2 separate regions of the Homo sapiens genome follow, and region 1 is linked to region 2. The links come from fine-mapping of genetic effects on plasma protein levels. A gene starts in region 2. The other region holds a variant in brackets. All regions are shown on one strand. Distances are between the middles of the regions.

The links. PIP is the posterior inclusion probability: the model's chance that the variant is causal. The UK Biobank Pharma Proteomics Project read protein levels with antibody pairs (Olink). The fine-mapping took linkage between variants from a reference panel, not from the people measured, so its PIPs are less certain.
Region 1: its variant is fine-mapped to the plasma level of the CD300LG protein (UK Biobank, PIP above 0.99).

The regions. Positions count from the first base shown.
Region 1 is chr17:43,805,895-43,821,404 of GRCh38, reverse strand. It overlaps MPP3 (MAGUK p55 scaffold protein 3), which reads left to right. Exons shown (of 20, transcript NM_001932.6): 11 at 347-543; 12 at 3,295-3,359; 13 at 4,708-4,728; 14 at 5,326-5,367; 15 at 7,044-7,208; 16 at 7,314-7,394; 17 at 10,200-10,293; 18 at 10,490-10,598; 19 at 12,327-12,449. Among named protein-coding and RNA genes, the nearest start is that of MPP3, 19 kb to the left of the region's middle. The variant A/T (reference allele first, on the strand shown) is at 5,961.
Region 2 is chr17:43,838,545-43,854,054 of GRCh38, reverse strand. CD300LG (CD300 molecule like family member g) reads right to left here and starts at 6,879. Exons shown (of 7, transcript NM_145273.4): 1 at 6,796-6,879; 2 at 5,162-5,497; 3 at 1,042-1,143; 4 at 11-248. The coding sequence starts at 6,838. LOC107984979 (a long non-coding RNA gene) reads right to left here. Exons shown (of 3, transcript XR_001753057.2): 2 at 14,107-14,198; 3 at 7,580-7,791. It overlaps LOC107985077 (a long non-coding RNA gene), which reads left to right. Exons shown (of 2, transcript XR_001752896.2): 2 at 3,754-4,305.

The DNA of each region.
Region 1 (15,510 bases), 33 kb after region 2:
CTTTACTTTTTGTTCCCAGGATTAGTTGTTGCTGTGTGTATGCTAAGAGGCTGTTATGAGGACAGCTGGTCAAGTAAATAAGGAAATATTTAGGTAGGAAAGAGACATTCAGTCATGGGGCTTATTAATTTTCTGATTCTTGATGGACTTCCTGACTATAGTATCCCAAATGGTTGAAGAACAGTTAAGAACATACGTGCAGTGTATTTCCAAGTAGCTTTCTATTTGAAAGGCCACTTGGTCCTCCTAAGTGTGGATGGTCGTTGTCATGTGGCCTTTGATGTGACAATGACCTGTCTGTGCTCACTTGGGGAAGGGCCGCCTCACCAGAGCCCTCCTTGTGCAGGTGTTCATGCGCGCCCTCTTCCACTACAACCCTCGGGAGGACCGGGCCATCCCTTGCCAGGAGGCGGGCCTGCCCTTCCAGCGCAGGCAGGTCCTGGAGGTGGTGAGCCAGGACGACCCCACGTGGTGGCAGGCCAAGCGAGTCGGGGACACCAACCTTCGAGCCGGCCTCATCCCCTCCAAGGGGTTCCAGGAGAGGTGGGTCTGGGGTATGTTGTGAAGGGCTGGTTCCAGAGTGGCAGAGGCACAGGTACATGGCAGACCCCCAAGTCTCTGCCCTCACAGCCAGAGGGGCCTGCTGAGCATTGTTCCCCCAAGGTAAGTACCAGTTGCACTTGTGTTTGGTCTTTTCCCATAACTAGTGATGATGGTTATTTGAGATTTAAAGGAATCTATGGAAATTTATGTTATTAAGTTAATGTGTGTGTGTGTGTGTGTGTGTGTGTGTGTGTGTATTTTTTTTTTTTTTGAGACAGAGTCTCCCTCTGTCACCCAGGCTGGAGTGCAGTGGCGAATCTTAGCTCACTGCAACCTCCACCTCCCGGGTTCAAGCAATTCTCCCGCCTCAGCCTCCTGAGTAGCTGAGATTACAGGCGTGCACCACCATGCCTGGCTAATTTTTGTATTTTTAGTAGAGACAGGGTTTGGCCAGGCTGGTCTCAAACTCCTGGCCTCAAGTGATCCACCTGCCTTGACCTCCCAAAGTGCTAGGATTACAGGCATGAGCCACTGGATCCAGCCTAAGTTAATGTATATTTTATAATGCATGCTCAGAGAATGCTGATAAACAAAATATAAAAATACAGAAGAGAGGCTGGGCATGGTGATGACTCACGCCTGTAATCCCAGCACTTTGGGAAGCCGAGGCAGAAGGTTCCCTTGGGCCCAGGAGTTCAAGACCAGCCTAGGCAACATAGTAAGACCTTGTCTCTACAAAAAATAAAAAATTAGCTGGGCATGGTTGCACACACCTGTAGTCCCAGCTACTCGGGAGGCTGGGGTGGGAGGATCAGTTGAGCCCAAAAAGGTCAAGGCTTCAGTGAGCTGTTATCACACCACTGCACTCCAGCCTGAGTAAGAGTGAGACCCTGACTCAAAAAACAAAACAAAACAAAACAAAAAAACAGAAAAAAACTGAAGAGGAGGACTATGAAAGGAAATTCCCCACGTCTCACCCTTATCTAAACTGCATAGTTTGTTTCCTTACTGTGCTTTTTATGTGAGTGTTGCATACAGAATTTGGGGTCTTGCTTTTTTTTTTTTTAAACATTTTTGGCGTGAGTATTTTCCATATTATAGCATCGTTTTTGTAGTGTGATTTTAGTGGCTGTATACTAACTCATCAGGAGCTGTGCCATTCATTCCTAGGCGGCAGGTATTTAGGATGAATTGAGCTGGCCTTGTGCTGGCATCTTGCGGGCTGCTGTGAATCCAGGGTTTCTGCCCTGGAGGAGCTTATAGTTCAGTGGAAAAGCCAGACGCTCTTCAAACACACAGTTTATATAAACGTGATGGGTGCAAGGGAGGAGGACATGGTGCTGTGTGAGTTCATATTAGGAGGCTGCGCCCTCATCCAGGAATGCAGGGAAGGCTTCTCAGAGGAACTAGCTAAGTGATTTCACTGCTTTCCTGTGGCTGCACTTCGATTAGGTTGTTCCCAATTCTTCACTTTTATAAGGCTGCAGTACTTACTTACTTTGCACATAGACTGTTCCTCATGTTTCAAATTATTTCTTTAGACTTCCAGGAAGGTCAGTCTTGGGTCAGAGGGTGGCAGTTGTGACTTCCACTGTGGGTTGTAGCCCTCACATCTTTTGGTGTGTGGACTGTGGTAAGGACAGGACCTTGGGGTTCACCCATTTCAGTGGCCCTCAAGGTGTGGCCCCCTGGCTGGGGGCTTCAGCGTCACCTGGGGACTTGTTAGAAATGCAGATCCATGGGTCCTGCCCAGAAACTCACATTCTAACAAATGTTCCAGGCGATTCTGAGATGCCGAAGTCTGAGAACGAAGCTCTGTCTCCTCGGGAACCCCAGACCCATCTCCATTTTAGGGTTCACAGGTCTTGGCAACATCTTACCAGAGGATGTGGGGGACAGCTCTTCAGCTGCATTTTTTTTTTTTTTTTGAGACATGGTTTCACTCTTGCCCAGGCTGGAGTGTAGTGGTGCTATCTCAGCTCACTGCAACCTCCACCTCCCGGGTTCAAGTGATTCTCCTGGATTCTCCTGCCTCAGCCTCCCGAGTAGCTGGGATTACAGACGTGCACCACCATGCCCAGCTACTTTTTGTATTTTTTAGTAGAGACGGGGTTTCACCGTGTTGGCCAGGCTGGTCTCGAACTCCTGACCTCAAGTGATCCTCCCGCCTCGGCCTCCTAAAGTACTGGGATTACAGGTGTGAGCCACCACGCCCGGCCCTTCAGCTGCATTTAAATGTGGAAATCTAGTGACCTCTGAGAGCCCCACCTCTCCACTCATGGCCACATTGGACAGTCTGCCCGGGCTGAGCCTTCCGCTGAGGGGAGGGTGTTAAATTAGGGTCACTTCTGTCCTCGGCCTCTCCTGGGAGTCATTCTGCTATTTCTCAGCTCCCTCAGAGATGGGGAGGCTGGGGAGTAGAGAAGGGGCTGCCTCTCCTTAGAAATTGGCCATAGGAGAGTAATGACCAGCTGAGGATTGTACACCGGGCTGGATCCTGTGTGGCCATCTTGAGCTGGATGAGCTATTTCTGGAGCAAGAGACTCAGTTTCTTCCTCCTGGTGAGCCAGTGAGCCCTGTGAAAGTGTTCCCTTCGTTGGAACTTAGTGCTAAGCAGGAGGCCCTCAGAGTGTCCAGTGTGTGCCCACCTGTGGGATCCAGGCCTTGGCTTCCCAAGTTTTCCAGAAGGTTCCTTTCAAGTGGTTATCTGGCCCAGCTCACGGGCCCGCCCATCCCCTTGTGTCCCTGCAGACGACTAAGCTACCGGAGAGCCGCGGGCACCCTGCCGAGCCCCCAGAGCCTCAGGAAGCCCCCCTGTGAGTAGATTGTCAGGGATGGCACTCCAGGGAGGGCCCGGGGTTAGGGCGAGGGAGGATTCAGGCTGGGAAGAAGTAGGCAGTGGGCTGGAGGGGGCATCAGGGGTCTTGTCTGAGCTCATGGACTCCAGAGGAAGGAGGGGGTGGGAAGTAGGAGGTGGGGGGCAGCTAGTCCCTGGAGAGGAGCTTGTATATTTGGAGTCCATAGATGATGCTGGGGGGTATGTTAACAGCTTTCCCAAAATGTGCAGATGTGTGTGTGTTCACACGCGTGTGCATGTGCGTGTGAGGATCCACAGCTTTCGTTAGATTCCCAAGGGCTCTCTGACCTTGAAAATGGAAGAAGCACTGGCGTTGGAAGGGAATGGAGAAGGCCATGTGTGACCTGGTGCCTCTGGTAGGGCTGCCAGATTGCCAGACTGGGCAAATACAAATAAAGGATGCCCAGTTGAAGCTTGAATTTCAGATAGATGACAGATTGGTTTCTAGTATAAGTATGTTTTTATGTAGTTTTTATTATAGTATAAGTATGTCCTGTGCAATATTTGAGGCATACTTATACTAAGAAGTTACTTGTTGTTTATTTGAAATTCAAGTTTAAGTGGGTGTCCTGCATTTTATCTGGCAACTCTACACCGTGTAGCACTTTACACTTTAGAAAACATGTCCACCTACTTCTTGGAACCCTGTGAAGTCGGTAGAGTCAGCTATCTTTTCTAAGCTGGGAATATGTAGGGTCACAAGGTTAAGTGAGCAGAGTTGGGGTCACATTTTCTGAAGGCCTGTGATCAGAGCCCCAGGGTAGGGCCCCGTGCAGAGAGGAAGCTTTTCCAGAGCATGGTCTCTCTGGTACTAGAGGGCAGACTTGTAACCGAGTGAGCGGCCTGAGCAGGTGCCAGGTGACCAGAACACAGATGGCCTGCAGCTCTGCTCCACCCCGCTCCATCCTCAGGCATCTGCGTTTTCCAGGGCCAGACTCCAACCCCAGAAAAGAGAGAGTGGGTCCTATTCCCACCGCAGGATCCTAGAGTAAGCTGCTCCCTGGGCCCCTGACAATGGCCACTTTTCCAGACTTGCTGTCAGGTTAGAAGGGCAGTGGCCTTGAGGCTGCTGTGCCACTGATGAGCTGGCTTTCTCTGGTGCTAATGAGACACATACAAGAAGACTAATTAGAGCAGGTCTTGGGGTTTAATAACGTACCACAGCTCAGATCACAGGTTCGTTGGAGGAAAGGGAAAGAGGCCAGATGGCGGGCTCCTCAGGCACTCGGGCCGTGGCTGCCCTCAGCCGCAGGGTCCCCGCTTCCCTCCACTAATGCTGTTCCATCTGTCTTTTGTGCAAACCGCAGATGATCAGCCTTGTGACAAAGGTAGGCCCAGTATCTATCCGCTGTCCACAGGCGTGGCCCCTTTTCCGTGGAACGTCTGGGGCCTGAGGGGCTCGTGTTCTTTCCCTATCTGGGCAGCTGTGCCCCTCCCACTGTCTGCGCACCTCTTCCTGCTCTGCCAGCTGGACTGGGCTGTTCCTTGAGGCAGGCAAAGCTGGTGGGGACAGGGTTCAAGGCCTTAGGGGCACCTCCCTGCCCTCCTGACACGTGCGGCCCAGCCTTTCCAGGACTCGGCTACGCTGTGATGGGGCTGGATAGGAGACAAGGGGTGGGAGGGCAGGGCAGGCTGGAGTGAATCCCTCCCTATTCACACTGCTCACACTCAGGGACTGGGGAGGCCTGCTGGCCTAGAATCCCCCTCAGGGCCTGGAAAGGCTGTTAGGGGCCTAAGCATGGAGAACTGAGCAAAACAGAGGACCTTGCTTTCTTGGGGTGTCCAGGACATGGGATTTCCCCTGAGCTCCCCACGAGACACCATCCCAGGGGGCTCTTCCTGCCTGGCCATCCAGGGGCTGGGTGCCCTGGGCCGGATGTGTCTGGTGGGACTCACTGGCTTCCCTCCCTCTGTTTGCTTCCCAGAGACCTGTGACTGTGAGGGCTACCTCAAAGGGCACTATGTGGGTAAGTAGCTCCCCCTGACACCCACATGCACGACCTGCCCCACCCAAGGCCCCAGAGTTAGGGAGAGGTCAAAGCAGGGTGATCTGAGCCCCAGGAGTCCTTCTGGAGCAGTGGAGCCTATGGGACCCCCATCTCTCCTCAGTTCTCTCAACCCAAGCAGGAGCTGAGCCTGCCCAGGCATTGGGCCCCCACCCAGCTTTTACCCAGCTGTGGGGCACACTGCCCTGGCGGGAAAGGCACACACACCCCTACATTAATACCAATTCTATTATCACCATCATTGCAATTGGAGTTTATTCAATATTAACACCACTACCACGCAGTGAGGGGTGTTTGCGGCTCTCCAGAGCCCCTTTTCACTTGTTTTGGTCAGTTTTTTCAAAGGTCTTAGAGATAGGCAAAAAGTTTTTTTTGTTTTTTGGTTATTTTTTAGAGACAGGGTTTTGCCCTGTCTCTCACGCTGGAGTGCAGTAGTGTGTGACATTGCAGCTTGCAGCAGCCTCAATGTCCTAGGCTCAAACAATCCTCCCACCTCAGCCTCCTGAGTAGCTGGGACTGCAGGCATCTGACACCATGCCCAGCTGATTAAAAAA[A/T]TTTTTTTTGTAGAGATGGGGTCTCGCTATGTTGCCCAGCTGGTTTCAAGCTCCTGGCTTCAAGCAATCCTCCTTTCTAAAAAGTTTTTAAACTTTTTTTAAACTTATTTTTTGAGATATGGTCTTGCTCTGTTACCCACACTGGAGTGCAGTGGTGTGATCACAAATCGCTGCAGCCTCAGCCTCCCAGGCTCAAGCGATTCTTCCCTCTCAGCCTCCCTAGTAGCTGGGACTACAGGTGCATGCCACTATACCTGGCTAATTTTTGTATTTTTTGTAGAGACAGGGTTTCACCATGTTGCCCAGCTGGTCTTGAACTCCTGAGATCAAGTGATCTGCCTGCCTTGGCCTACCAAAGTGCTGGGATACAGGCATGAGCCACTGCACCCAGCCCCTTAACTTTTGTCCTGAAGTAATTTCAAACTTACTGAAAAGGTGTAAGAATTATACAAAGAACTCTCATATACTCCACACCCAGATTCACCAGTTGCTCCTTTGCCATGTTTGCTCAATTTCCTTTCCCACATCTCTGAATTTTTTTTTCCTGAGTCATATGAGACTTAGTTGTAGACATCGTGTCCCTTTAACCCTAAATCTCTCAGCATGTATTTCCTAAGGCCAAGGACTTTCTCAGGGCAGTGATCAAATTCTGAGAATTTAAAATGTATCCAAATCTGTTATATGCTGTTATTTAAATGTTAACAATTGTCCCCATCATGTCCTTTATGACATTTTCCCTTGGTCCAGGATCTAATCTAGGACCACACATAGTAGTTGTAGATTCATATCTTCATTTCACAGGTAAGGAAATTGAGGCTCAGAGAGATGAAGGGACTTGTCCAAGGTCAGTCACATGCCAAGTAAAACAGTGACCTTAAGCCCTAGTTTGTGAATGCAGGGGTCACCCTTTCATCTTATTATTGTATTTCCTGAACAACCTCTTCCAGTAGCAGGAGGAGGTTGGGAGAAGTCAGTGGGACTCAGTCCCATCTCCAGGTCTGGCCAGGTGGGAAAAGTCTCTACTGGGAGATCCTGGGACAACTGGGACAAATGCCATGGTGTCCCTCTGCCCCTCCTCCCAAGCTGGTCTTCGGAGGAGCTTCCGGCTGGGCTGTAGGGAGAGACTGGGTGGCTCGCAGGAAGGAAAGATGTCCTCCGGAGCTGAGTCTCCGGAGCTGCTGACTTACGAAGAGGTGGCCAGGTACCAACACCAGCCCGGAGAGCGGCCCCGCCTGGTGGTTCTGATCGGTAGGTGCCATCCTGGGTTTCCAGGAAGTGATCTGGTTTCCTCCCTGGAGCAGGTGGGGAGGGAGCTCAGCAGGGACCCTGGTCAGCCTTCTTCTTGTTTCCCAGGGTCTCTGGGAGCCCGACTGCACGAGCTGAAGCAAAAGGTGGTGGCTGAGAACCCACAGCACTTTGGCGTCGCTGTTCCACGTAAGAGGGCCCATGTGGGAGTGTGTGTTTGTCTGCACACACACAAATATTCCATGGAGACTTAACTCCCCAGATCCATCCAAATCCTTACTTTGGGTTTAAAGGATCACCAGGCACTGCCTGCTATTGGCAAATTGTGGGACAAAGGCATGATGGGAAGAAATCCACTCCCAGTGGTCCTCTGAGACCCTCTGAGGCAGAAGTTGGAGGACCACTTGCTTGGTTCCTGCCTGGGGTGGGAGATGAGTCCAGAGCACATTGTAGGCAAAGTGGCAGCCTCAACCTGACACCACGGGGCCCCCACAGTAGGGGGCATTCCTCCTCATCACAGTGAATTTTGACTCCTGTGGCCGCTGCCCTCTGCTTGGATGAGAGGGCAGGTCAGAGAAGCCACAGAGCCCTGTGAGTGGTATTTCTCGGCACTCCCTTATAGCCAGATTCCAGTTTGTCAGGGTAGCTGGGTACATTCCTGGGTGATGCCTCCCCTGCCAATTCCTGGGGCTTACTGCTGCCAGGGGCACCCTGGGATGTCAAGCTCCAGTGGGCAGAGGATCCTGGTTCTGAATGTGATAAGGAGGATGAGGAGGAGGAGAATGAAGGTGCCAGGTAATGCACCAAGAGCTTTTATGTGTAGTGCCCTGCGTCAGCCCTCCCAGTACCCCTGAGAAGAGAGATTGTTATCATCTTGTGTGGCAGAGGAAGACAGTGAGGGTCAGAGAGGTTAAGTAACTTGTCCAATGTCACACAGTTGGTAAGTGGTGGAGCCAGGATTCATACCCAGGCAGCCTGCCCCAGTCATGTTCTTAACGAGGATGCACAATGGCCTCTCACCTGCCGCCTCCCACTTCGTGCCCTTGGCTGCCCCTTTTCTTTCTGGGACTCACTCTCAGTCCCCCTGGCCTCAGAGGGATGCAGTGTGAATGCCTGGTGGCTACTGAGAGGGGTGCTGTGGGGGCCCTAATGGGGCCTCCTCAGAGTGTTCTGGGGCAGAGCAACCATGAAGCCTTGCTTTGATCACACCGCTCTCCCTGGGCCCCTGGGCCCAGCGTCTAGTCTGTGGGTTGTCAGAGCTGTCTTCCACAGCCCAATCTGAAGTGGCAGGGATGTGGGGGAGGTGGTGGCCCTGGGGAGGCCATCCTGGCAGCACACCTGTGATGGACCTGGAGGGCTTCAGGGAGCCACGGCCTTCCAAGTTTCAGGTGGACTGAAACAGGACATGCAGAGGTTGCTCACACACTGATCGTTCAGAACCCCTTGGATCCACCCCCTGGAGAAGAGGTACCTGGATGGTCAGGCCCACCTGCTTCTAGGCACTCCACAGATAGGAGACTTTCCTCCTTTGTTTTAGAAACTGGGGGAGTCAGGGAAGCCTTCCCAGAGGCAGTGACTTTTATGCTGGGTTCTGAAGAGTAAATAGGAGTTTTCCAGGCAGAAGAGAAAGGAATAGTTCTCTTTACAGAGGAAACAACATGTGCAAAGGGACGGAGCAGTGTTGGGGACCGGGGAGATTAGTGTGGATGGTGTGCTGGAAAATGGAGCTGAGAGGTTGGGCAGATCACGCAGGTCTCAGATACTCAGCTAGGGTGTTTAGAATGTAACCCATAGATAAATACAAGTTTTTAAGCAGGGGGATGACATGGTTGGAAAAGTGACCCTAGCACCTCTACCGGAGGTTGGACTAAGATGCCACAGAAAGAACACAGGGCATACCCTGGGTGGTTCCCATGGGCCAGAAGACACAGTGCCTCAAGATCCCATTTTATCTTTTGGAAAATACTGTGTGTGTGGCTTTGTGTGTGCCCTTGTTCTGCAGAAGACCTGATTTTCCTCAGAAGTGTGCATCCCAATTCTGTTATGGAAATCAATGAGAAAACACCATGTGTTTCAACATTTTTGTTTGAGAGCCAGCCTTGCTGAAACACATCCGATCTATATAGGGACGGTCTGTCTTCCTGTCTCCTTTTTCTGGAGATGAGAACTAATTGACTAAAGAATTAAAAGCATACATCAGGGTCAAGTGTATGTGTGGCTCCTTTGCTCTCAAAAAATAAAAAACAATGAAGAATTAAAAGTTAGGACTAGGGGTCCCTTAAGTGATTCTTTAAAAGCCACAGCATATGCTGGGCGCGGTGGCTCATGTCTGTAATCCCAGCACTTTGGGAGGCTGAGGCGGGTGGATCACCTGAGGTCGGGAGTTCGAGACCAGCCTGACCAACATGGAGAAACCCCATCTCTACTAAAAATACAAAATTAGCCGGGTGTGGTGGTACATGCCTGTAATTCCAGCTACTCGGGAGGCTGAGGCAGGAGAATCGCTTGAACCGAGAAGGCAGAGGTTGCAGTGAGCCGAAATCATGCCATTGCGCTGTAGCCTGGGGAACGAGCAAAACTCCGTCTCAAAACAAAAAACAAAACAAAACAAACAAAAAAAAAACACAGCATCAGGGAGTCAGTTAGCAGAGTGGTTAAGGGTATAAGCTGGGCATTTGGCAGAGAGACCGATTCTGGCTGTGCTCTCTACTGGTTGTGGGTCACTGTGCACAGTGCTGAACCTCTCCGTGCCTCAGTTTTCTCAGCTGCAAAAGGAAAAGCCTCCTTTTGCCTACATCAAAGAGTTGTTGTGTGAATCAGTGATACGCCTGCCTGGAAAGGCACAGTGCCTGATACAGGGACATGCAATGAGGTGGAAGTGCCTGGTTTAGACACAGCAGCAGTGAACTCCCAAATGAGTGCCTAAGCCTGCTGCTGTCCCTGCGTGCTGTGATGTGACATCTCTTTGCCCAGCTTTCCTTCTTTCTTTAAAAGATACCACCAGGCCCCGAAAGAGCCATGAGAAGGAAGGAGTGGAATATCACTTTGTGTCTAAGCAAGCATTTGAGGCCGACTTACATCACAACAAGTACGTTGCTTGATGGGCCAGTTGGCCCTCCAGGCAGTTGTGTGTTTTTGTATCTGTATTCCACTAGAGCTCCTGGGAGGACTCCCGGAAAGGATGGGGGAAGCGGGAGAGAAGTCATGTTGGGAGGTCCCCTTTGCTTTGCTAATTTAGGAAAGCTGAGGAACTAAAGGCCTTTTCCCCTTTGGTGGTGTTTTAGGTTCCTGGAACATGGTGAATATAAGGAAAATCTGTATGGAACCAGCCTGGAGGCCATTCAGGCTGTTATGGCCAAAAACAAAGTTTGTTTGGTGGATGTGGAGCCAGAAGTGAGTTGCTGGGCCTGCTGGCCATTTCTGGTTAACGGAATTTATAACTAGGGGATTGTACATTTTACACAACACTTAACCTCAGTCTAAGGAATTTTTAGTCTAGAACACTGGCTGTTCAATTTCTTTGGGTCTTCCTTTGAGAATCAAATGAAAGCCTTGTACCCCAAAACATGCCCCTCTATCCACAAATGCTGCATTAATTGTAGGGAGCTTGTGGACACTCTGGTGGCCCACAGACCCAGGCTAGTAACTCCTGCGTGGAACAGATCATGCAATAGTTGGTGGCGCTGACTGGCCATTGCAATGTGCCAGAGAATTAGATGTCAGTACCCAGGTGAAACTGGGGCTGAGCTCTCGGTGCCAGGCCTCCCCCTCCCCAACCAGGGCAGGTGGAGTCAGTGGCTTAGAGAACCACTCAGGGAGGCAGTGAGGAGAGCAGTTTAAAGGGGAAAAAGAGGGAGGGAGACACGGCCCTGGGAAGTGCTTCAAAAACATTTCCACTCCTGCACACCCAGCATGCTGTGGACTCAGCAGGGGCTTAACCATCTTTTTAACCTTGTCTTTTAGAAAAACTTCCAAGCTTTGAACTCAATCTGGGGATTTTTTTTCCCCTCTATAGAAACAGATCTCTGATTTTATGCTATAAACTGTAGGCTTTATTTTAAAGAAGTTTGCTTGAAATATATTCCAAAAAGCACGTTATGCCTATAAAGGAAAACACTCATTTGGACTTACAGGGAGTTAGTGATCAAAATTAAAAGTCTGAGTTTCAAAATTTTCTTTGAAAAGTGATTTTATTGATCACTTTATTGATCAAGGGTGCAGATAATGCATATAGCAGTTTAATACTAGTGTTTCCAAGTGGAGCCCTTACTTCTAGATAAAATGCATTAATCAAGAGTACAATTTCTTTTTCTTTTTTTTTGAGACAGATTCTTGCTCTGTCACCCAGGCTGGAGTGCAGTGGTGCGATCTTGGTTCACCGCAAGCTCCGCCTCCCGGGTTCACGCCATTCTCTTGCCTCAGCCTCCCGAGTAGCTGGGACTACAGGTGCCCGCCACCACGCCTGGCTAATTTTTTGTATTTTTAGTAGAGACGGGGTTTCACCATGTTAGCCAGGATGGTCTTGATCTCCTGACCTCGTGATCCACCCGGCTCGGCCTCCCAAAGTGCTGGGATTACAGGTGTGAGCCACCGCACCTGGCCCAAGAGTGCAGTTTCTACAGTCTACAGTTTTAAATGATCTGTTCAGTAATCTCATTTGCTTTGCAAACCTTTTCTTCTTTGAATACCAAGAGGAGATGTAATAGCACAAAGTTTGTAATAATGTAGTCCGATTGATGACATTTGACTAAATAGATACACACTGACTCCTGCTTCCTCACCCATCAGAAATGGAAGGTGGAGAGGAGCCTGAGAAGGTTAATTATAGCCGGAGGAGTCAGAGCTAAGAGAGACAGCAACTGTCTCTGAGCTGAGGCTTAGGAACCTTCTGTTGGCAGTGAGTGTGACTTCAGGGCCCCGCTGAGTTCAACGTCAAAGTGAAGGATGAGAAAAGGAGCAGTTGGTCTGCCCAGTTGAAGTCCATTGTCATGGGACCCATGTAACCAGGACCTTTGCTGTTGAGGTTATGGTATTGAAGCACACGATTATTGAGCTTTCAAAAGTCTATTTCACAACAAAACACTTCAAAAGTATATAATATTCCTGAACTTTCTTTCTCAGGCACTGAAACAACTGAGGACCTCAGAATTTAAACCCTATATTATATTTGTAAAGCCTGCAATTCAGGAAAAAAGAAAAACGCCACCTATGTCCCCAGCTTGTGAGGACACAGCAGCCCCATTTGTAAGTTTAAAGTTGATTGTTTCTTTTCTGAAGGCCTAAGGGAGGCTGTTACAGGAACGCTTCTAGCTGCATAAGGGTGCTTGCAGCTGAAGAGGGATGCGGGACACACCTTCTACATGTGATTGTCTTTCCATTTTGCCTATTGAAAAACTTAAGAGAAGATGATTACATGGCCAGAAGGCTCAAGGTGAACAGCTGGAAGTGCCTCCCAAACCAGGCAGGTGGCTTTGCCTGGGCTCACGCCCCTCCACTCCCTCACATAAGCGCCCTCCCGCAAAATGTGACACCTGTCAGGGACCTCATCTGAGTGTGACAGACTGTACTCATCAAACTATACTCCTAGGCCAAATCCAAGTATTTTAAATTGAAACCCCAACTAACAAGGTCATTATCACTGCTATCAAACCAGTTTGAATCATCAGTGAATGAAGGGATTTCTAAAACTAGTGGATGAGATCGTCTGATGTGTCCTAAATGAACTTCTGTTTCACTGTCATAGATTCTTTGTTCAGCCCAGTCTATGTCAGGATGGCGAGACCCTCACCCAAAACCTAAATATTTGACAGAGTTCTTCCAGGAGGTGTGGGCTTGGTGACTCATCTTTTTTGGTTCTTAACAGGGTCAGTTAGCAGAATGAGTTGGAAGTTGTTGTGGGTGGTGGGGGCAGTCAGAAGCAACTCAGTCCCAGAATAGACTTTACTTGCTGTCCTATATAGCTGGTTTCATCTGAAGGAGGCCTTCTCGGATCCTTCCCCTTGGTCAGGAAGCTCCCGCTGAGTCAAGATTTTGATGCAATCCTAGTTCATACTAATTCTCAGTTTTAACTGTCCACGTTGATACACTTTTTATTTTATTATTATTTTTTTAAAGACAGGGACTCACTATGTTGTCCAGGCTGGTCTTGAACTCCTGGGCTCAAGTGATTCTCCCACCTTGGCCTCCCAAAGTGCTGGGATTACAGGTGTAAGCCACTGTGCCCAGCCTTTTATTTTTTTGGGGACAGGATCTTGCTGTATTGCCCAGACTGGAGTGCAGTGGTACAATCATGGCTCACTGCAGCCTTGAACTCCTGGGCTCAAGCAGTCTTCCTTCCTCAGCTTCCTAGGTAGCTGAGACTACAGGCATGTACCATCAATGCCCAGCCAATTAAAAAAAATTTTTTTATAGAGACAGGGTGTCTCTGTGTTGGCCAGGCCGGTCTCAAACTCCTGGCCTCAAATGATCCTCCTGCCTCAGCTTCCCAAAGTGTTGGGATTACAGGTGTGAGCCACCGTATCTGGTCTCAGTAAATTATTTAGAATGGCATACATACAAGGAACATTAGAAATTCTCTCCTTGGCCAGGTACGGTGGCTCACACCTGTGTCTCAGCACTTTGGGAGGCTGAGGCGGGCAGATTGCTTGAGCCCAGGAATTCAAGACCAGCCTGGGCAACTTGGTGAAACCCCATCTCTACAAAAAAATTACAAAAATTAGCCAGGTGTGGTGGCACAAACCTATAGTCCTAGCTACTCGGGAGACTGAGGTGGGAGTGGGAGGATCACTTGAGCCTAATAGGTCAAGGCTGCAGTGAGCCATGACCATGCCACTGCATTCCAGCCTGCATGACACAGTGAGACTCTGTCTCAAAAAAAAAAAAATGTAGAAAAAAGAAAAATTTTCTCCTTTAGAAACTCTAAGGGGGAGGCTGGCATGGTGGCTCACGCCTATAATCCCAGCACTTTGGGAGGCTGAGGCAGGCAGATCACCTGACGTCAGGAATTCGAGACCAGCCAGGCCAACATGGTGAAACCCCGTCTCATACTAAAAATACAAAAATTAGCCAGGTGTGGTGGTGCATGCCTGTAATCCCAGCTACTCGGGAGGCTGAGACAGGAGAAACACTTGAACCCAGGAGGCAGAGCCTGCAGTGAGCCAAAATCACGCCACTGCACTCTAGCCTGGGTGACAGAGCAAGACTCCATCTAAAAAAAAAAAGACACAAGAAACTCTAAGGGGAATAGGGGAATATCAACTTAAGTCTAGAATCATTTAGAAACATACAATATTGGCTGGGTGCAGTGGCTCACACCTGTAATCCCAACACTTTGGAGGGCCAAGGCGGGTGGATCACCTGAGGTCAGGAGTTCAAGACCAACCTGACCAACATGGTGAAACCCCATCTCTACTAAATACAAAAAATTAGCTGGGTGTGGTGGCACGCGCCTGTAATCCCAGCTATTTGGGAGGCTGAGGCAGGAGAATTGCTTGAACTTGGAGGCAGAGGTTGCAATGAGCCGAGATTGCGCCATCGCACTATAGCCTGGGCAGCAAGAGCAAAACTCCATCTCAAAAACAAAAAAAAGAAACATACAGTATGCCCATCATATAACAAAAAAATCAGAGACAACCTAAATAATGTTCACTGTCAGGACTCAGTTCAATATACTCCATTATGTGACACTTACAGGATGTATTGAAGTATTATAGCCAGTTAAAAGCCATATGTTGGGGCCGGGAGTGGTGGCTCACGCCTGTAATCCCAGCACTTTGGGAGGCTGAGGTGGGTGGATCATCAGAGGTCAGGAGTTCGAGATCAGCCTGGCCAACATGGTGAAACCCCGTCTCTACTAAAAATACAAAAATTAGCTGGGCGTGGTGGCAGGCATCTGTAATCCCAGCTACTCGGGAGGCTGAGGCAGGAAAATCACTTGAACCTGGGAGGCAGAGTTTTCAGTGAGCTGAGATTGCACCACTGTACTTCAGCCTGGGCGACAGAGCAAGACTCTGTCTCAAAAAAATAAATTAATTAAATAAATAAATAAAAGCCATGTGTTGGAGGAATATTTGATGACATAGCTAAATACAAGAAAAAATAAATCAAAATAAAAAATCAGGATTCTAATTTTGTGTTACACACAAAATACACTAAAACGCTAAAGGCAATTCTCCCTGAATAGTGGGCTCATGACTAAATTTTGTTTTGTTTTCTGTGTGTTTTTTGGAGGGGGAGTTAACAGCTTTACTGAGATAAAATTTACATACTGTACAATTCACACATTTAAAGCATACAATTCAATGAT
Region 2 (15,510 bases):
TGGGGCTCACCTGGGCTTAGAGCTGCCACTGCTGAGAGCTGGACTGGTGTCCTCTGCTGAGGTGGAGTCCAGCTGCATGGGGGGGCGGGAGCTCCCTGCAGGAGGAGAGGTCGCTGGGTGAGGAGAGGTTCCTGTGTACTGAGAAGTCCTTTCGTGCCCGTACTGGGAAGTCCCTGGCAATGGAGGGGCCTCAGCCCCTGTCTTCCCCTGCTTGGCTGTGGTGGCTGCCGGGTAGAGCCCAGGAGAAGCTACAAGTCCAAAAGCAATGCCTCAGCATCCTTCCTGACCCTTGCATCCCAGCATCCCTGACTTCTGACCCTGGACCCCTGAACCCTAGCCTCCCTGGGACCCGTTTCTCGGAACATCCCCAGCTAAAGGATACCCCAGTAAGCAAACAGATCTAGATGAAGCCACTTTGAGGAAGGAGACCGTAGATCAGGCACACCCCACAGCTGTGCATGATGTTCAGTCTCTTTCTGTGCCCACAGCTTGTTGCCTCTGTGAGGAGGTATAAGCACTCCCCTTCCCCGCTTCCATGACCCTTTCCAGTGACCATTCAGTGGACACCTTCCTGCCCTCCCCCTACAGTCCCAGTCAATTGTCACCTCCTTCCTCACCAGAAGGGCAGGTCCTCCCCTCACCACCATGTGCCCCCTCCCCAACCACCCGTGCCTCAGTAAGGCCTTGACTTCCTTCTGCAGCCATGAGACCAGGAAGGGCAGGGTGGCAGGATGAGTCCAGAGGTCAGGGCCCAAGGCCTGGCCTTTCTGGCTTGCCCCCGAGACTCTGGATGGCGCAGACAGAATATGAGCTTTGGGGTCAGGCTGTGACCACTTCTGGGATCTGGCACTTCTTGTGTGACCCTGAGCAAGTGACCTAACCCTGCTGAGCCTCCACTTCCACAGCTGGACAACCCAGCTCCCAGGCTTGTGGGGACACCTAGGTGGCCATAAACTATTGTGTCTGGTACCAGGCAGGCACTCACTGGCTGCTTCTGTAAGAAGGGTGGCAAGGGAAGGGGCGGAATTGCCATTCACTCACTCAATCCTGGGGGCTGGGTTTGCTGAGCTTTTGCCTTGGGCTGCAGGCGTGTTGTAGCCAGAGGCTGGAAGGTGGGAGAAGGGGAGGGAGGACAGCAGGGTCCTAGAGGAAAGGGAAAGGCTGCTCTCAGGGGTGGCACCGCTCTGAACCCCTTTTCCTTCCTTGGGAGCAGCTGGCAGTTTTCCTACCCCCCACCTCAGCACAGAGCACTGCCATCTTTCGCCTCGGCCAACCAGGAGCCACGTGGCGGGTTCCAGCAGATCCCTGGTCTTCTACTCCTGCAGCCCCCTGGCCTCGCGCCTAGCTCAGAGCCTCAAACCCACCTGCCTCTCAGCCTGCTTCTTCCCTGCCACCCTTCACACTACTCCAGTTTTGTCTCAAAAGTCTGTGTTGGATCCCATCCCTCTCTGCCTTAGAACAGTCACTGGCTCTCCATTGCCTAAAAGCCAAAGTTCAAACTTTTTAGTATGCCTTTCGAGGCCTCTTAAACTCAGGCTTCAGGCCGGGTGTGGTGGCTCACACTTGTAATCTCAGCATTTTGGGAGGCCAAGGCTGGTGGATCACGTGAGGTCAGGAGTTCGAGACCAGCCTGGCCAACACGGTGAAACCCCCTCTCTACTAAAAATACAAAATTAGCTGGGTATGGTGGAGCATGCCTGTAATCCCAGCTACTTGGGAGGCTGAGGCAGGAGAATTGCTTGAACCCGGGAGGGAGAGGTTGCGGTGATTGCAGTGAGCCAAGATTGCGCCACTGCACTCCAGCCTGGGCAACAACAGCAAAACTTCGTCTCTAAAAAAAAAAAAAAGCAAAGAACAAAACTCAGGCTTTGAGGCTTTGAACCACCTTGTCAGCTTCGCCTCTTTCTCTGTTCGGTGCTCCAGCCATAGAGTCATCCTCTATTCCCGACTAAACCAGCCTCCTGCCCACCTCCGTGCCTTGGACATGCTGTTCCTCTGTGTGCGATGCCTTTCCTTTCCATCTCTGCCTAAAGCACTTCTTTCTGTCCTTCAGCACAAGCTCAAGGTCAACTCCTCTGTAATGTCTTCCCTGGAAGCAGCGAATCTCTTTTTCCTCTGTGCACTCACAGTCCCCTGTGCGTGCCTCCAGTGGCGCTAATGCTCACTTACACTGCAATTTCTTGTGTACTGGGTCTCCCTGCTAGGCTGAGACTCCTTAAAGGCAAGATGCCTATCCTCTTGGGAGGCCAAGGCAGGCAGCTCACAAGGTCAGGAGATCGAGACCATCCTGGCTAACACGTGAAACCCTGTCTCTACTAAAAATACAAAAAATTAGCCGAGATCGCGCCACTGCACTCCAGCCTGGGCGACAGAGCGAGACTCCGTCTCAAAAAAAAAAAAAAAAAAAAAAAAAATTCCTGTCCTCTGTGCCCAGCACAGTGGGCAGAAGCCTGATGCAACCAACTCCCCAGGAGCTACTCCGGTCCCCACTTCCCCAAGTCCATCTGTCACTTCCCCAGTCCTTGCTGACTGTGTGCCATCCTGGACTCTCCCTCTTTCTCCACCACTTTCTCTTCTACAGATTGAGTATCCCCTATCCAAAAATGCTTGGGAACAGAAGTGTTTCAGATTTCAGAATATTTGCATTATATCTGCCGATTCAGCATCCCTAATCCAGGAATCTGAAATCCAAAATGCCCCAGTGAGCATTTCCTTTGTGTGTGTGATGCTGGCACACAAAAAGTTTCGGACTTTGGAGTATTTTGCATTTTTGGATTAGGGATACTCAATCTGTAACACTAGGTCAGTTTATTCTTGGATTTTTCTAAGTAGATGATCAAATCTTTTGCAAATACAGAGTATTTATCTTTTCCTTTCCAACATTTATACTTCTTCTTCTTTTTTTTTTTTTTTTTTTTTTTGAGACTGAGTCTGGCTCTGTTGACCAGGCTGGAGTGCAGTGGCACGATCTTGGCTCACTGCAACCTCCGCCTCCCGGGTTGAAGCAATTCTCTGCCTCAGCCTCCTGAGTAGCTGGGATTACAGGCACCTGCCACTATGCCCGGCTAATTTTTATATTTTTAGTAGAGACGGGGTTTCACCATTTTGGCCAGGCTGGTCTTGAACTCCTGACCTCGTGATCCACCCGCCTTGACCTCCCAAAGTGCTGGGATTACAGGCGTGAGCCACCATGCCGGGACTTATACTTCTTAATCTTGCATATTTCATTGCCTAGGGCCTTCAGGCAAAGATGAATAAAAGAAAATGATAGTAGGCTGGCTGGGCACAGTGGCTTCTGCCAGTAATCTCAGCACTTTGAGAGGCTGAGGCAGGCAGATGGCTTGAGTCCAGAAGTTTGAGACCAGACAGGCCAATATGGCGAAACCACATCTTAAAAAAAAAACAAAAAACCAAAATGTAGCCAGGCATAGTGACTTGTGCCTGTGGTCCCAGCTACTCTGGAGGCTGAGGTAGGAGGATTACTTGAGCCTGGGAGGCAGAGGTTGTAATGAGCCAAGATTGTGTCACTGCACTCCCGTCTGGATGACAGAGTGAGACCCCATCTCAGAAAAATGAATGAATGAATGAATGAATGAATGAATAAAAATAAATAAATAAAAAGAAAAGAAATGATAGTGGCTACATTTGTCTTTTTCTGACTTTCTTAGAAATTCTTCTCATGGTTCACCATACTCAATGGTGTGCTGGAGATGGCTCGCACTGACTCACAAGAGCTCACTGTTAACTTTTCAGGAGTTGGTGAGATCGTGTTAAACTGTCGATGGCTGGAAATTGGCCATGGGAATTGGACCACAGAAATGGACACCACAGAAATTGGAAAACACCACAAAATGACAGCATCCCCAGCCTGTTAAACATTTACCAGCACATCACTGTCGTCAGTCTTCTTCATTTTCAACATCCCAACTGCCATCAGAGAGAGGCCAATAGAGTCCGATATAGGACGATAATATAGCAATACACATGTCATACACAAATAAAGAATTACAAATGAGGGTAAACCTAAAACACAAGCGAACTTGATCATAACTGGTAGAAATGACATGTGAACACTGATAAGAATTGGAAGAGATAAGAGAATCTTGTAAATAATGAAGAACAGATTCAATGTGGTTCGATGCTGCTGCTATTTGGCAAGTTTAACTTTATTTCCTCAAATTAAAGATCCATGGATAAAGGAATAAAAAAAAAATAGGGGCTATGGTGGTAGGGATGGGCCTGGGATTGGGATAGGTCCCAGCTATGGGGCTAGGAGAGGAATAAAGCAGACATCAAAGCTGGAAACGACTTGTGTTTGAATCCCAGTTCCATCACTTCCTGCTGTGAGATCTTGGGCAAATCACTTAGTCTCTTGGAGCCTCAGTCCCTCATCCGTGAAATGGGGATACAAAGATGTACCTCGCCCACACTGGCCAGCAGACCAAGGCTCCCACTCCCCTGGGCCCTCTCTGGCTTCTTTCTCCTTAGCTCAGCAGGTCCACTTGGGGTTCTGGGCTCCCAGAGAGGTGCTTTATCCCCTACCCAGGCCCCATAGCTCCAGCCCCGGCCCCCTAGTGTCCCTGCATTTAACGATCCCTCCTTCAGGCATCCTACCCAGAGGCTGGTTCCCAGGCACTCTAGCACCTGTGGCTGGACTTCAATATCTGGGGAGGTGGAGGCCAGGAGGGGAGAGTTGAGGGCACAAGCAGGGCGAGGCCAGCATGTCCAGGGTGATGCTGTGGGCTGGGTCTGGAATGCAGCAATGGTTGGCCCAGCCTCGGGAGGCCTCAGGAATATCTCTGACACCAGGCGAGGAGTCTTCTTTATCCCCTGATATGTCTATCTTGTACCCAGCCTATGGAAATCTCCCTCCAGCACACCTGGGCAGAAAGGAAAGGCGCCGAGCCCAGCCCTGGACAGATCTGGGTCCGGTCCTGCTCTGACATCTACTACTGGTGTGACCTCGGGCAGCAAGAGTGAGACAATGGCCAAGACTCAGGCGGCTCCTTCTGTGCCCCAAGCCTTGCTCGGTGCTTGACCTGCATGATCTCCCTGAGGACTCAGTGCCCATAATGTTGGTACCAGGATTATGCCCCACCACCCCTCCCTCTTCCCTCTGCAGCTCCTGTCCCCAGCCTGGGGAAGGAGAGATATCTGTTACCTGGAAAGACGAACAGAGAGATCAGTAAAGACTCATCGGGGCCCCGTTTTTCGACCCCACACCAGTACTCCCCAGCGTCTTGCAGGGTGAGGTTCCACAGGGTCACAATGAGCGAGAGCTCCTGGCGGCTGTCACGGATGGACACCCTGCCCTTCATTGTCTCCTGGCCTTCTTCTTCTGCATAGATGGTGCCAGAGCAGCGAGAGAAGAGGATCCCACCCTTCCTGCACCAGTACTTCCGGTGGTCCCTCAGCTCTTCCCTGTAGGTGCACTGCAGGGACACAGTGTCCCCTTCGAACCCGCTGATTTCCTCTGGGCCCTCCAGGGCTTCATAACCTAAAATCAGAGCAGGAGTGGAGGTTGGAAAAACCAGGCTCCATGTACCAAGGTCAAGGCCAGAGCTTCCATTTTAGGAGGAAGAAGGAAGGCTTTTCTCAGTCATCCCTTCTGGGGACAGCCTTGGAAGAGCCATTACTAACCTCCCACGCTGGGGGAACTTGGGGCAGGGCTGTTGCTGTTTCCCTAACCCTGGCCCATTGAGGAATTGGGGTGCAGGGGTGGCGTTCTAGATTCAGATAGAATCTGACAGCCAGATAGCCAGCAGGGTTTCTGAGTGTTTTGTTTTGTTTTGTTTGTTTGTTTGTTTGTTTTTGAGATGGAGTCTCACTTTGCCGCCCAGGCTGGAGTGCAGTGGCCCGATGTCTGCTCACTGAAACTTCTGCCTCCCGGGTTCAGGTGATTCTCCTGCCTCAGCCTCCTGAGTACCTGGGACTACAGCCACGTGCTGCCATGCCCGGCTAATTTTTTGTATTTTTAGTAGAGACGGGGTTTCACCGTGTTAGCCAGGATGGTCTTGATCTCCTGACCTTGTGATCCGTCCGCCTCAGCCTCCCAAAGAGCTTGGATTACAGGCGTGAGCCACCGTGCCTGGTTTTGTTTTGTTTTTAGACAGGATCTCACTCTGTTGCCCAGGCTGGAGGGCAATGGTGCTCATGGCTCACTGTAGCCTTGACCTCTGGGGCTCAAGCGATCCTCCCACCTTAGCCTCCCACTAGCTAGGACTACAAGTGTGCACCACCATGCCTGGCTAATTTTGTTTGTTTGTTTGTTTGTTTGTTTGTAGAGATGGGGTCTCACTATTGCCAACTGAACAACTGACATCAGTTGTAGGATTTATCCTGATTTTAAGTGTTAGAAGGTAAAGAAAAAGAAAGCAAAAGAATTGATGAAACGTGATAATTCTTCATCTTTCAGGGTTGTGGGGAGAGGCATAGCCGAAATTCAACAAATATTTGCTGAGTTTAACAGGGCAACCAGATGGGGTGTCTTGTCCGCCTCCAGGCTTGGCACAGGGTAGAAAAATTAAGATTAGAGAGGCAAAGCAACTCTCACAGCCACATTGCCATGAGGGGAAACCCACAGGTCTGGAGAAAACCTGGCTCTAGGTTCCAGAAACAGCAAGTGCGGCCCCGGCGCCACCCCCACCTCCCCCCACCCCCAGCCCGCCCCGCTCCCCTAGGGCTGAGGAGGCTGAGGATAGGTGGGGTGGGGCTATCAGTCAGTCAAGAGGTCCTTTCCCTGCAGACCACAAGGGTGAGCCCCACATCCCTCCCGAGACCCTCTCCCCATCTCACCTGGGAGCAGCAGGCAACCCCATAGCAGGACCAGAAGCCGCATTCTGGGCGCTGGACACCGTGGGAGCAGACGCTGGGAACTGTGAGCTCCTCTTCAGTCACACGGGTCTTTAACTTTCTCTAGTCGCGTGAAACCAGGCCAAGGAAGCGAGGGGAGGGGCGTGTGGGTCATCCCTCCGCAGGCCCAGCCGGGGAGGCGCCTCTGCCTTCCCTTTTCTGAGCGCCCACGCGTGCCTACCCCAGGGCTCACCTTCCAGGACTGAAAACCCACACCAGAGTTTCTCCTAAACTCGTGCCCCTTCAAGGGGGCCTTAACCTGTGGTCCGTGCGCCCTAAGGGGTCTGTAAGTCGAATTCGCATGGGAAAAAGTTACATATTGACTTTCATCAACTTCTAATATTTAGCTTTTCCTCTTATTCAGAGTGTACTGTTAGCAGTACCTGCAACTTTGTTACCAATTACAATCACAGACACTGGCACATCAAGTTGTGGATATCTCGAAACGTCGTGTATACCCCTCACTGCTTGGAAAACAATGAGTTCCTAGACCTGCCCCTAGAGCTGGTTATTTACAATAATGAAACGGCTATTATTATATTACACATTTATAAAGAGTTTTAAGAATCATCTCACCAGTATTAGTTTTCTTTCCAGCATATATATTTTATTTATATATTTACCCGCCATTATACTGAGAGAGGGGTCCATAAACTTCACCAGACTGCCATGTGGTCAGTGGGACAGAAAGAAGCTTGCCCCTGGGGCAAGGCCCCTGGCCCCTCCTCCGCCCTTGCCTTTTGGAGGACGCAGTACTGCCCTTGGCCACGGGGCGGCGGTGCAGACGGGGCTGAGCAAAGCTGTAGGGCTGAGCTGGACCGGATTCCCTGGTGCCTTGGGCCTACAGCGCTGCAAGATAGGTCTCCTCCACGCCTGCGGAGTTGTTTTGGCATTTGAAAAAGTGAATTGGTGGTTTCTCCATCGCAGACTTGAATCCTCCTTGAAAGGACCAAAACAAACATGTACACTACTGGGAGCTCTGACACACTGGCTTCAAAAATGACTTTTTTTTTGGTTTGGTTGCAAAGTTCATACAGGTTGTAAGCAAAATTTTACACAATACAGAACGTAAAAAGGAAAGAAAGAAAAAAGGGAGTGCTTCTTGTAATTCCCCTTCTGCTTTAGAAAAGCACCATTAATATTTTGGCATATATCCTTCCAAATGTTCAGTTGGAATTTTACTGACTTGTCAGGTTAATATCTGAAGCATTAACTCAGTGGTTCTGGGAGGGAAGATTGTGTGTGTGTGAGTCTAGTAACGTGGGGAGAAGTGTTTTAATTTCACAATGACTGCGAAGCACTGCTGCCATTTAGTGGGCAGGGCCAGCTGTTCACGGTGGGGAAAACTGTTACCATGATCTCAGCCCCTGACTCTCTTTTACATGTACAGACTACAAAAGGTGATCTGTTTTTGCAGTTTTAAAAAAACACAGATTAAAAAATATTTATGGCCCAGCATGGTGGCTCACGCCTGTCATCCCAGCACTTTGGGAGGCTGAGGCGGGTGGATCACCTGAAGTCGGGAGTTTGAGACCAGCCTGACCAACATGGAGAAACCCAGTCTCTACTAAAAATATAAAATTAGCCAGGCATGGTGGTGTATGCCTGTAATCCCAGCTACTCAGGGAGGCTGAGGCAGGAGAATCGCTTGAACCCAGAAGGTGGAGGTTGTGGTGAGCTGAGATCACACCATTGCACTCCAGCCTAGGCAACAAGAGTGAAATTCTATCTAAAAAAAGAAAAAAAAGTATTTGTTTATTTACTTATTTTTGAGACAGGTCTCACTCTTGTTGCCCAAACTGGAGTGCAGTGGCGCCATCACAGCTCACTGCAGCCTCAAACTCCCAGGCTGAAGTGATCCTCCCACCTCAGCCTCCCAAGTAGCTGGCACTACAGGCGTGCACCACTGTTGCCTGGCTAATTTTTTATTTTTAGTAGAGACAGGGTCTTGTTATGTTGTCAGGCTTTTCTCAAACTCCTGGCTTCATGCGATCCTCCCACGTCGGCCTCCCAAAGTGCTGGGATTACAGGCACGAGCCACCATGCCCGGCCTTAAAGTAATACTTATTCTAGCATTTGATAGCATATCTTTGCTCTTCTATTTATTTATTTTTGTCCTTACACAGAATAATTTCTGATCCTCTACATTTCTTAAATTCAGACTTATTTATTATATGCAAGGACGAGCATCTGACACTTCATTATGCTTTCTAGTGTCATGGGACCTGAGCACTGACAGATTGAAATATGTGTTATTTGGTTATAAATTGCTTTCCTTTTATTTTTTCTCCCTAGTATAGCTCAGGCACTATAGTGTGATTTTAAAGAAGTAAGTGCTTGTGAAGGCATATTATTTATGATTGTCATTTTAGGAGAGTAAGCGAGGTGTTATTAAATGTTTATTTATATAAAGAGCATGTTGAGTGGATCCCTACCCTCTTCCTGCATATTTGAAGGTCCTTCCCCTCCATTTCCCAGCCCCACACCTAGCCCAGGAGGCTGGCTCAAGAACTCCATTAGAAACAGATTCACCAGACTGGGAAGTGGAGCAAGGGCTGGGGAGAAGGGTGAAAGTGAGGTGCTGGCATGAGCCTCGCACCTAGTTCCACCTTAGGCCACACTCTGGGGTAGATGGGGCCAACAGACAGACCTCCGTGGTGGGCTGGGGATCTGAGAAGAGAGGATATTTTTGTCCTGCTTCCCACCAGAAGCATGGGGAGGTGCCCCACCATCACTGCACCTGGGAGAGGCAATGAGGCACAAGGGCTCCTGGACAGGTCACTGGGCTCGTGACAGCCTCATCACATCCTCAGGAAGGCCTCTGTGTGCCCAAGAGGTACAGTGGCAGGGATGAGGGGACTGAGCTGCTTGGTCTTCGATGGCCACCCTGGTCCAATTCCTCTCGGTTTGGACTTGGACTAAATCACTTCAGCTGCTCCAAGAGGGTCACTTGCTCCTCTTAGATCAAGGTTTCCCCAACCTCAGTACTGTTGACATTTTAAGTTAGATAATTCTTTGTTGTGGGAGACTGTCCTGTGAATTATAGGATGTTTAGCAGCATCTCCAGCTGTACCCCCTAGATGCCAGTAGTCCCTTCCCAGTTGTGATAATCAAAAATGTCTCCAGGCTGGGTGAGGTGGCTCATGCTTATAATCCCAGCACTTTGGGAGGCCAAGGTGAGTGGATCACTTGAGCCCAGGAGTTTGAGACCAGCCTGGGCAACATGACAAAACCCCGTCTCTGCAAAAAATACAGAAAATTAGCCAAGCATGGCAGTGTGCACCTGTGGTCCCAGCTACACACAGGCTGAGGTGACAGAATCACCTGAGCATGGGAGGTCGAGGCTGTAGTGAGTCGAGATCCCATCACTGCACGCCAGCCTGGGTGATGGGAGTGAGACCTTGTCTCAAAAAAAAAAAAAAAAAAAAAAAGGCCGGGCGCAGTGGCTCACGCCTGTAATCCCAGCACTTTGGGAGGCCGGGGTGGGCGGATCACAAGGTCAGGAGATCGAGACCATCCTGGCTAACACGGTGAAACCCCGTCTCTAAAAAAATAAAATACAAAAAAATTAGCTGGGCATGGTGGCGGGCACCTGTAGTCCCAGCTACTCGGGAGGCTGAGGCAGGAGAATGGCGTGAACCCGGGAGGTGGAGCTTGCAGTCAGCTGAGATCACGCCACTGCACTCCAGCCTGGGTGACAGAGCAAGACTCTGTCTCAAAAAAAAAAAAAAAAAAAAAGCCTCCAGGCATTGTCAAACATCCCACTGAGAGGCAAAAATACCCTGGGTTGAGAACTGCTGTCTTAGATGATGAATAACTGTGGAACAAATAAGTGCACTTTTGTGTAAGTTATGTTTATTGTTTATGTAGGTCAGGGTGTTCCATCTTTTGGCTTCCCTGGGCCAAGAAGAAGAATTGTCTTGGACCACACATAAAATACAGTAACACCAGTGATAGCTGATGAGTTAAAAAAATAATCTCATAATGTTTTAAGAAAGCTTACGAGTTTGTTTGGGGCTTCATTTAAAGCCATCCTGGCTGCATGCAGCCCGTGGGCCGCGGGTGGATAAGCTTGATGCAGGCATAGTAACACGGTTTTGGAAACAGGACAGTGGGCAGAACCTAATGCTGAACCCCAGAATCAGGTAAAACTGCGTCCTTCTTTCCTCAGTGGAGCTGGGCCATCCTCGTAATACTCAGGGTGAGGTGTGGTGTATCAGTTTAGAACACACACTTTTTGCAGGTGGGCCAGCTCACCAGAGAAAAGGAAGAAGAGAGCCGGGTTACACACGCCTTGTTCCTCCTTCAACATTCATCAATCAAATCAGCAGAGGCATGGAGAAAGGCGTGGAGAGGTGTAGAGAGAGGCGTGGAGAGGCGTGGAGAGAGGCGTGGAGAGGCGTGGAGAGAGGCGTGGAGAGGCGTGGAGAGAGGCGTGGAGAGGCGTGGAGAGAGGCGTGGAGAGGCGTGGAGAGAGGCGTGGAGAGAGGCGTGGAGAGGCGTGGAGAGAGGCGTGGAGAGGCGTGGAGAGAGGCGGGGAGAGGCGTGGAGAGAGGCGTGGAGAGGCGTGGAGAGAGGCGTGGAGAGGCGTGGAGAGGCGTGGAGAGAGGCGTGGAGAGGCGTGGAGAGAGGCGTGGAGAGGCGTGGAGAGAGGCGTGGAGAGGCGTGGAGAGAGGGGTGGAGAGGCGTAGAGAGAGGCGTGGAGAGGCGTGGAGAGAGGCGGGGAGAGGCGTGGAGAGGCGTGGAGAGGCGTGGAGAGAGGCGTGGAGAGGCGTGGAGAGGCGTAGAGAGAGGCGTGGAGAGGCGTGGAGAGAGGCGTGGAGAGGCGTGGAGAGAGGCGTGGAGAGGCATGGAGAGGCGTAGAGAGAGGTGTGGAGAGGCGTAGAGAGAGGCGTGGAGAGAGACTAAGAGTTTTGTGCCAGTGGGGTTCTCTGCTCATGGAAGGAAACATCAGGAGTGGGGAAGACGTGTCCCCGGCAAAGACAAATGAGCCACAAGACAGGAAGATTTGGATTCCTGAGCTACCACTTGGAAGACAGCTGCCCTGGACAGCCACCAAGCGTGCGGCGGACTTGGAATGAGCAAGAGATAGACTTTTCTGTGTTTAGCCACGGAGATCTTGCAGTTTGCTAGTTGCTGTAGCACAGTGTAGACCACCACCATGCTTTTTGTTTTCCGTCATACATTCATCCTCTAGTCTCCTCGCAGCTTCCCTACCCTAGCTGGTTGCAAACTCGATTTTTCAACTTTCTCCATCAAACAAATCTGAAAACTCCCTTTCAATTTTTTTTTTTTTTTTTTTTTTTTTTTGAGACAGCAGGCGCGATCTCGGCTCACTGCAACCTCCACCTCCTGGGTCCAAGCGATTCTCGTGCCTCAGCCTCCTGAGTAGCTGGAATTACAGGCACGTGCCACCATGCCCAGCTCATTTTCTGGTATTTTTAGTAGAGACAGGGTTTCACCATGTTGGCCAAGCTGGTCTCAAACTCCTGACCTCAAATGATCTGCCTGCTTCGGTCTCCCAAAGTGCTGGGATTACAGGTGTGAGCCACCGCACCCGGCCCCTTTCAAATTTTTTATGTTAACCAATTACTTCGGGGAATGACAGGGAAAATGATGGAGGAGGGCAGTAATGGGAGACTGGTAATGCCTCAGGAGCTCAATCAGTAAATGCCCACGTTTACTGATAGGTAAATTTCAAATCTTCTCAGAAACTTTGAAGGCTAACTGCAATGTGTTATCTTGGACTGGATCCCAGAACAGAGAAAGGATATTAGTGGAAAAACTAGTGAAAGATTAATAAAGTCTGGAATTTCCTTAATAATAACATTCCAATGTTCATGTCTTAGTTTTGACAAATGTATCATGATTATGTAAGATGCTAACATTAGAGAAAACAGGGGAAAGGGTGTTCAGGAACTCTCTGTACTATCTTTGCAACTTTTCTGTAAATCTAAAATTATTCCAAAATATAAAGTTTATTAAGAAAAAAGAAAGTATACTGGGGAGGCTGAGGTGGGAGGATCACTTGAGCCTGAGGGGTCGAGGCTGCAGTCAGCCGTGAGCATGTCACTGCACTCCAGCCTGGGTGACAGAGCGAGACTGTCTTAAAAAAAAAAAAAAAGCAGTGAAAAGCTAAAAAGAGCATGGGGGTTCCCAGGCATAAGTCTGCATGCAAGTAGACAGGAAGCCAGAAAGATAAGCTCAGTGTATGTGCTTGTTTTCCCTGTGGGCATTTACTGATTCCAAAGCAGCAGCGAAGAGGATGAACTAGGAGTCTAGGGCCCTCTGGGGGCAGGGAATGGAATCTGGCATATTTTTGGTCACATTAGGCTGGGACCCCAAAAGGCTGTACAAACCAGGCCACCATGGACTTCCACCCAGCTTTCTGTCATTTAGGTGTCCCAGGAAACTTCAAGCTTTGAACTTGAATTAAAAGTGGCTCTTGTCTGGCAGCACCTTCCCCATCCCTACCCTCGGGTACCTTAAAGATATTAGTGAAAAATCCTTTCTGGAGGAAAATAGCATCAGCCTAAGCTGATCATTTTTACAAGTAGTTTTTTCAAATACCATCTAATATATAATCAAAGATAACCAAATCTATGAGAAGACTCAATAAGCAAGAATATGCAGAAACAACAAAACAGACCCGTGGGGACTCCATATACTGTAAATAGCAGGATCAGCCTTAACACAACTATTCTTACTGTGCTCAAGGAGGTAAAAGTCAAGCTTGACATTTTTGGCAGGGAACTGGAAAGAACAAAAAGTGACAGCAGATTTGAAAAAAGCACAACATAAGAATTCTAGGACTGGCTGGGAATGGTGGCGCATGCCTGTAGTCCCAGCAACTTGGGAGGCTGAGGCTGGAGGATCGCTTGAACCCGGGAGGCGGAGGTTGTAATGAGCTGAGATCGTGCCATTGCATTCCAGCCTGGGTGACAGAGCAATACTCTGTCTCAAAAAAATAAAACAAAAATAAAAATAAGAGAAATAGGTAACAAAAGCCACAAACAATAGGAAAAGTTATCAGAAATCTCAAAAAACAAAACAAAACAAAAAAACCCCAAAACCCCAGTACAGTAATTTCCCTTCTCATTGAGAAGTAAATGGAGCTGAGCCTGCCCTTTCTCCACCCGCTTCTGACTTGCCCTCTTGCTGCATGCCTGGGCACTAGCCCATTGCTCCTCTTGGAATTATTTCTGGTTCCCTATGGTGTCTGGGCTGAATGCCAAATGCAATGACAATGCACACCTGTAGCCTGAAGCAGATTCTCTCTGTCACCTCTTCAAGGATCGTTGGCATTCTCTTTTTTTCCAGAGCATGCTTGGTAAAGTCTCTTCTCCCTGTCCAGATGGACCCAAAGTCATTCATTCCTCTGGCATTGAGCTCATCTTCCTGTTCCCTGTGCAGCTGCTCTAAACGAGCACCTTGACCGAGCCCTGGCTGGGTGAGGCGACTCCTGCCCTGAGCTTCCGGCCATCTGGGCCAACTCCGCCCTGGCTGCACCTGCCCTGTCCTATGATGCAGCCTCTCCCAGCACTCCTGCTCCAAGCTCTCATCCACCTAAACATCTCTCTCTGCTTCTCTTTTCTTCCATTCTGCTTGCCCAAATATCCTCTGGACTAAAGGACATGTACATATAATATTTTAACAAATATTACCAGATCGTGTCCCAGAAAGTTTGCACCAAATAATATTCCTTCCAAATGTGTAAATGTGTCTTTTCCCCACATCCTTGATAGCACTGGATGTCAACAGACTTAAACATTTTTGTCTTAACAAGGGACATTGCCTCCTATTTTGGCTAAGAATTCTTCGATTATGAGTGAGGTTGTGCATCTTTTGGATTTTTTTTCCTTTTTTTTTTTTTTTAAACAGGAGATCTAGCATCAGTTTTCTGTGTTTATTGGCTATGTATTTTTTGTATTAGACTATTTTCTTTGACCGTTTAAAATTTTTTCATCTTTTCTCATTTATGTAAACTCTTTTAAATTGAGGAATTTAACTTTATCATATTGCATATGATATCATATGTTGCAAATAATATTTTTACCTATAAAAATGTTTACCCTTTTTTAAATCACACATATCCACCTTTTCCTTTATAGATTTGGATTTGGAATTTACTTAGAAATGTTTCCCTCACTGCAGCCGGGCGCGGTGGCTCATGCTTGTAATCCCAGCACTTTGGGAGGCCAAAGCGGGCGGATCACGAGGTCAAGAGATCGAGACCATCCTGGCTAACACGGTGAAATCCCGTCTCTACTAAAAATACAAAAAATTAGCCTGGCGTGGTGGCAGGCACCTGTAGTCCCAGCTACTCGGGAGGCTGAGGCAGGAGAATGGCGTGAACCCGGGAGGCGGAGCTTGCAGTGAGCCGAGATCGCACCACTGCACTCCAGCCTGGGTGACAGAGCGAGACTCCGTCTCAAACAACAACAACAACAACAACAACAACAACAACAACATTAGCTGGGTGTGGTGGCGGGTGCCTGTAATCCTAGCTACTCAGGAGGCTGAGGCAGGAGAATCACTTGAACCCGGGAGGCGGAGCTTGCAGTGAGACGAGATCTCGCCACTGCACTCCCGCCTGGCCGCAGAGCAAGACCCCGTCTCAAAACAAAAGCGAAAGAAAGCTGTATCCCTACCTCACTT